Regions from separate parts of the Homo sapiens genome. Here region 1 is reported to be linked to region 2. Evidence: microRNA targets listed by miRTarBase, many of them from high-throughput screens and not tested one by one. Region 2 holds a microRNA gene; the other region holds the end of a gene's coding sequence.

The links. Region 2 holds the annotated microRNA hsa-miR-6892-3p (UCCCUCUCCCACCCCUUGCAG, at 2,063-2,083, shown strand). A microRNA usually pairs through its seed, bases 2 to 8, with sites in the 3' UTR of a target mRNA and lowers its output. Matches are read on the target gene's strand: a 7mer-m8 pairs with bases 2 to 8, a 7mer-A1 pairs with bases 2 to 7 and ends in A, and an 8mer does both.
Region 1: the mRNA of TRIM35 is a reported target of hsa-miR-6892-3p. Seed matches in the 3' UTR shown: 7mer-m8 at 1,548-1,554 and 8mer at 1,588-1,595.

Annotation. Positions count from the first base shown.
Region 1 is chr8:27,284,555-27,287,951 of GRCh38, reverse strand. It overlaps TRIM35 (tripartite motif containing 35), which reads left to right. Exons shown (of 6, transcript NM_171982.5): 6 at 1-3,066. The coding sequence ends at 402. Among named protein-coding and RNA genes, the nearest start is that of TRIM35, 25 kb to the left of the region's middle.
Region 2 is chr7:143,380,718-143,384,114 of GRCh38, forward strand. It overlaps MIR6892 (microRNA 6892), which reads left to right and starts at 1,969; the gene lies at 1,969-2,083. It overlaps ZYX (zyxin), which reads left to right and starts at 628. Exons shown (of 10, transcript NM_003461.5): 1 at 628-692; 2 at 840-1,062; 3 at 1,531-1,730; 4 at 1,876-1,968; 5 at 2,084-2,605. The coding sequence starts at 855. FAM131B-AS2 (FAM131B antisense RNA 2) reads right to left here and starts at 308. Exons shown (of 2, transcript NR_161353.1): 1 at 1-308. It also overlaps a transcript of FAM131B not described here. RefSeq lists an enhancer at 1-324 and silencers at 38-1,067, 1,098-1,147.

The DNA of each region.
Region 1 (3,397 bases), not on the chromosome of region 2:
GCCCTTGGGGGGCTGCAGAGCTGGAGGGTGGGCGTGGTACGTGTGCGCCAGGACTCGGGCGCTGAGGGCCACTCACACAGCTGCTACCACGACACACGCTCGGGCTTCTGGTATGTCTGCCGCACGCAGGGCGTGGAGGGGGACCACTGCGTGACCTCGGACCCAGCCACGTCGCCCCTGGTCCTGGCCATCCCACGCCGCCTGCGTGTGGAGCTGGAGTGTGAGGAGGGCGAGCTGTCTTTCTATGACGCGGAGCGCCACTGCCACCTGTACACCTTCCACGCCCGCTTTGGGGAGGTTCGCCCCTACTTCTACCTGGGGGGTGCACGGGGCGCCGGGCCTCCAGAGCCTTTGCGCATCTGCCCCTTGCACATCAGTGTCAAGGAAGAACTGGATGGCTGAGCTGGCCCGGGGCTGCCCCGGTCTTGTGCCACAGCACTGTTTTCTTTCTGCCCTCTTCCTAATGCCCACACTGCTTGGGCACTATTGCGCCCCTGCCTCCTTGCCAGGCTCTTCCTCCTGTCCTGCCTGGTCCTTTTCCATGACTCCAGGCTGTGCCTCTCTCCATGTTTGGTCCCTTCTGTGCCCATGGTCAGGAGCTATTCGGGTGGCACCTCGCTGGCCAGGCTCTCCCGAGTCGTGGCACCTCCACAATGTGAATTTTCTGAATCCCTATTCCAGGATTTCTGGGAATAATGTTTACTTCTAGAATGGGCCTGTTGTAAACCATCTCATCGAGGTGTGGTAAAGCCATTGGATGAGGAGGGGACTGCCATGGAAAGGAGAGTTTGTTACTTACGGTTCTGAGAGGAGGGGCCACATAGGAAAGCCCCACGGTGGGTCAGAAGGCGGAAGGAGGGAGGGGAACGTGTGGGCAAGAGACTTCCTCTGGTTTCCTCAGGAGGAAATGGGCAAGGCAGAGTAAGCAGGGGAGACAGGTTTAAGGGTAGCTGGCTTGAGTAATTTCAGTGGCTCTCAGGATAGGGGCTGCCCTTTTTGTCTGATACCTGGCCCCGGGATAGTCAGGACAGGTGAATGTTGGCCTGGGGTGTGACAGCCCTGGGAGAGCCATGTGAAGGAGGCAGCTGGCGCCATCGCTCCGGATTAGTTGGTTTCCATAGGAAAGGCATGCTTTCAGCCAGATGCTTGCCATCTCTAGGGATTGGGGGATTGGCTAGCCTGGGAGGATCAGTCTGTCCAGGTCAGCGAGGCCCCAGATACCAGAGCATCAAGAGTACAGGAAATACAGTTAATGCAGGGCCTCTGTGTGGCTGGATCCTCCGTCTCCATCAGATCAGCTCTGATTGATCTATTCTTGCACGATTTCCTCTGAACACAGGGTTCCAGAGTACTTAAACACAACATTTTTTAAATCGTGATTTCGGCCTATTTCCTTGCCAGGCCTGTTTCCCCACCAGGAAATGAGATAGGAGGACTGGATGAGGATGTCCTGTTATAGTTGCTGTGGAGGAAGTTCCTCTGGTTAATTCTCATCAGCGTCTGCAGAAAAGAAGGAAAGAGGGCACCCTTTTCAGTTGGGAAGAAAGGAGAGGGGTGGCGCCATGGACGTGGCCCTAAACGCTGTGGGAGAGGGAAGAGGAGGCTGGGCCTCGCTGCCCTCTTGTCTCTGCTGACTTCAGCCTGGTCATGCTTGCTCTGCCACTTGCGATTTCATCCCTAATTTCTTCCTCCACCATGCCTGCAGACTTTTCCCTGGGCTTGTTTTTTCTCGCACATCTCTGAAGAGTTTTTAATCTTCAGCTCATCATGTCCCAGGAAGTGGCATCATAAAAGGAAATATTTTTTTTTCCTAGGAGCAGTGTTAAAATCTGGGTCACATTCCTGACCAAGGACAGCATCCTGCCTTCTGCCCATCCCCTTCAGTTCACAAAAGCTGACATTTTAAACAAATCATGACTCACACGTATTAATTGGTTATAAATATGTTGTGTACACTGGTTAGATAAAACTTAAGGCCACAAGGAGGGCCCAGGTAGGCGATGTCAGTGTGTGAAGGGGCTGGATTGGGCGTGGTGAGGATGTTGGCAAACCAGTGCATGCACCTGGTTGGAAGATGCTCAGCCTCACAAAAGCTCCAAGCCCTTTGGGAGCCAAAGTGTCTGAGAGTGTGACCCTCTCCTGTAAAGTATTTATCCCACCCATTAATATAATTTCTGTATAATAAACTTGACCTGAAATTATTTCATTCTTTATATTAAACTTTTAAAAATGTTTTTTATTTTCACCTTAGATATGGGAAGAGTTTTTTTTTTTTTTTTTTTTTTAACAGGATAACTTGAGCAGGCTAGGCCTCTTAAAAAAAAATTTGAGCTAAAACTCATTTTTCTTTTGGCATTTTCTTTTCAATGTTCTTATAAGCAAAGTTCATCCATGTTGTAGCATGTGTTCAACTTTATTTTTTCATCGGGTAATATTCCATTGTATGGAATGGTAGTACTACATTTTATTTATCATGCATCGATTGGTGGACATTTGGATCGTTTCTACTTCTTGACTATTATACATAATGCTGCTAGGAACTTTTGTGTATGAGTTTTTGTGTGGACATATGTTTTCATTTCTCTTTGGTATATGCCTGGGAGCAGATTTGCTGGATCATATGAAACTCTATTTAACCCTTGAGGGACTCCCAAACTGTTTTCCAATGTGGTGACACAATTTTATATCCCATCAACAGGGCATGAGGGTTCTGATGACTCCACATCCCTCAGTGCTTTTTATTATCTATCTTTTAACTTAGCCATCCTAGTAGGGGTAATGTGGCATCTCATTGTGATTTTGGTTTGCATTTCCCTGATGGCGAATGATATTGAGCATCTTTTCATGAGCTTATTGGCCATTTGCATATCTTCTTAGGACAGCTATCTTTAGATCACTTGCTCATTTTTTAATTGGGTTATTTGTCTTTTTATTATTGAGTTGTAAGAGTCCTTTTATAGCCTGGCACAAGTCCCTTTAACTGGTATATGATTATAAAATTTTTCTCCGTGAGCTGTTTCATTTCCTTGATGATGTCCTTTGAAATACTAAAGCTTTTAATTTTGATGATGTCCAATTTTTATTTATTTTTTCTTTTGTTGTACATGTATCCTAGAAATCTCACTTTTGATACTGCCCTTAGGTCCATGTAAGTTCGGGGTTTTGGCTCAGGGATGGGGCAGTTATTCTGTTGGCAGGAAGCGCTAGTCCACGAGTTCATTAATTCTTCCCTGAAGCCCCTCTCCTGCCCTTGCCTTCCACTCACCCCGTCACTCTCCTTCTCATTACTGTGTCCAGGCTCAAAGCAGCAGCTCTCTGGGAAGGCCCCCGTTCTCCAGTTTCTCCCACTTTTGCATCCATTCCACATGCACCATCGTTCATGTTCCCATCACCTGGA
Region 2 (3,397 bases):
CCCTCCGGGCACAGAGTCAGCTGGGGGGTGCTGGGAGGGAGAACGCCCCGCTCCTCACCCCCCATCCCCGTGCACCCTGGAGCCCAGCTCCATACGTTCGGCCACCCCAGGCGGACTCGGGGTGGCCGGGTAGCGGGTGGTGGCAGGAGGGGACCGGGTAACGGCAGGCCCGAGAGGAGGTCGCTGGGCCGGGCCGGAGGCGCACAGGGGCTGCGTGGCTACCTCGGCGGCACCCGCCCCACCTCCGCCGGCTAAGCCCGGAGGGGGACGGTGAGTCAGATCTCGGGCACCCGCGGGTCGGGCGGGGAGGGGGAGGCAGGTCAGGAAATGACATCAGAGGCCTGTGCTCAGGGAGTGGGGGTCTGAGCCGGGCTGGGGCGGCGGGGGCGGCAGTGAGTGGGGTGGGGGCGAGCGGACCTCGGCGGAGCCTCCGGCCTGAGGCAGGATCAGGGCCCCTTCCTGGGGGAGTTTCCTGCCTGGTCCGCCCTTCCCCGCTCTCCCCGCCCCCTCTCCGGGCCGCTCCTTGTATGGTCTGGGCGCCGCTCTCTCCCCGCCCCCTCTCTTCTCCCTCCCTCCTCCTTCCGTGTGTCCCTCCCCGCCCGGCTGGAGGCTGCTCCGGACCGGGACGCAGAGTCTGCGGACCCGGCGCCGAGGCGGCCACCCGAGACGCGGCGCGCACGCTCCGGCCTGCGGTGAGGCGCGGGGAGCGGCAGGGCGGCCCCACGGGGAGGGGGCGCGGGGCGCCGGGAGGGGGCGAGTGGGGGTCACCAAGGGGAGCTGGGACCGCCTGGGGCTCCTGAGCCCGGCTCCGCGCTGCGTAACCCGGCGACCCACCCCAGCAGCCCGGCCCGGCCATGGCGGCCCCCCGCCCGTCTCCCGCGATCTCCGTTTCGGTCTCGGCTCCGGCTTTTTACGCCCCGCAGAAGAAGTTCGGCCCTGTGGTGGCCCCAAAGCCCAAAGTGAATCCCTTCCGGCCCGGGGACAGCGAGCCTCCCCCGGCACCCGGGGCCCAGCGCGCACAGATGGGCCGGGTGGGCGAGATTCCCCCGCCGCCCCCGGAAGGTATGCGGCGGGGCTTGGGGAATGTACCCCGGCAGGAGCCGGGGTGGGGGGCAGTCGTTTCGGGAATTTGGGGATGTCTGGAAAGGTTGTTGCCGAGGGGGCTGGGCGCAGCCACCCTGTCCCGAGCAGATGTTCTTACCTCATCGTGGAGCTCGTGGCTGGGAGCCAGGGCTCCTGGGACCGTTCCAAGTCCCCCGCCTGGGAGTGGGAGTCGGGAATGTGGGGCACGAATCTTCCCCTCCGGGTCCGTTTTCCGAAGTGTAACGGGAGCTGCACCACTCCTCGGCAGTGCGCCCGGCCTTTCCTGACCTGGTACTCCCAGGGCGCCCTGCGCCCCTCCTTTGCTTCCCCACACGCTCTGGGACCCCTGAGAGAGTTCTTGGGTTAGGGGTTAGAGCGGTTAACTGAGGGGAGCTTGGGTGAGGGGTAGAGGGACCCCGGCCGACGTCTTTCTCCTTCCTACCCCAGACTTTCCCCTGCCTCCACCTCCCCTTGCTGGGGATGGCGACGATGCAGAGGGTGCTCTGGGAGGTGCCTTCCCGCCGCCCCCTCCCCCGATCGAGGAATCATTTCCCCCTGCGCCTCTGGAGGAGGAGATCTTCCCTTCCCCGCCGCCTCCTCCGGAGGAGGAGGGAGGGCCTGAGGCCCCCATACCGCCCCCACCACAGGTACGGAGGCCTGGGAGGGGCGGCTGCACTGGACACCCCCAAGGAGAGGAGAAGAGGGCCCTTTCTTCTTACCTCCCCTGCACCTCTGCCTTGGGGGTGGGGGGATAGAGGCATGGAATAGGTGCTCTGACCTCTGACCCTCTAGCCCAGGGAGAAGGTGAGCAGTATTGATTTGGAGATCGACTCTCTGTCCTCACTGCTGGATGACATGACCAAGAATGATCCTTTCAAAGCCCGGGTAAGGGACCGGAGAGTAGGAAAAGCAGGGCTCAGGGCCAGAGAGACTGGGCATAGAACTAAGGAGGATGGTGTCCTCCTGACTGCATCTCTCTTCCCTCTCCCACCCCTTGCAGGTGTCATCTGGATATGTGCCCCCACCAGTGGCCACTCCATTCAGTTCCAAGTCCAGTACCAAGCCTGCAGCCGGGGGCACAGCACCCCTGCCTCCTTGGAAGTCCCCTTCCAGCTCCCAGCCTCTGCCCCAGGTTCCGGCTCCGGCTCAGAGCCAGACACAGTTCCATGTTCAGCCCCAGCCCCAGCCCAAGCCTCAGGTCCAACTCCATGTCCAGTCCCAGACCCAGCCTGTGTCTTTGGCTAACACCCAGCCCCGAGGGCCCCCAGCCTCATCTCCGGCTCCAGCCCCTAAGTTTTCTCCAGTGACTCCTAAGTTTACTCCTGTGGCTTCCAAGTTCAGTCCTGGAGCCCCAGGTGGATCTGGGTCACAACCAAATCAAAAATTGGGGCACCCCGAAGCTCTTTCTGCTGGCACAGGCTCCCCTCAACCTCCCAGCTTCACCTATGCCCAGCAGAGGGAGAAGCCCCGAGTGCAGGAGAAGCAGCACCCCGTGCCCCCACCGGCTCAGAACCAAAACCAGGTGAGGGATGGTGATAGGACAAGGCTTGGTACCAGGGCACTGGGGCGGGGCTGGGTCAGGAGCCAGAGCATAAGCATAAGGTGATTGGAGAGTCAGGGTGGACACGGGGGTTGCGGGGTGGCGGGATAGGAATTTTCATCCTCTGGGGTTAGCCTGGTGGAACAATGGTAGGAAAATGCTCCTCTGGAGGAGAGGCCTGGCTGGGTGTGGGGCTGGGTGGGGCCTGGCTGGGACGGCGCAGAGAGCATGGGCTCTGAATTAGGAGGATCTGGTGGACCTTTCCTTGTGCCTTTACCCCAGAAAGTTAAAGGGAGGGATGAGATCACCAGTTCCACCTTGGTTTTTCCCATTCTTGGGTCTTGAGTTAATCTCCCTGCTCCTCTGAGCACTCTTTCTGCCTGAGGGCTTGGAGGTAAGAGACAGCCCCAGTAAACACTGGTTGAGCCAGCATCCACCACGTGCCAGGCACTGTGCTCTGTGCCCAGGAGGGTAGGACATGGGAGGGAAGAGATCTCTGCAAGAAGCTCAGCCTTCAGGTGTCAGATGGACCTGGAATGGAATTCTTGGCTCAGCTTCTCCCAAGTCCTTAGACTGGGCAAGTTAGGTGAACCCTGAGCCTCAGTTTCTCAATCTTTAACATTCTCTACTCCATACAGTGGTTGTGAAGATTGGGTGAGCTAATACCTAGAGAGTGTTGGGTTCTGTATCTAGTACAGGAATGCTCAAAATAGAAAAGCTGTAATTACAAAATGGTTCTTGCCTTCTAGTTCAGGAAATAAGATCGTCCAATTT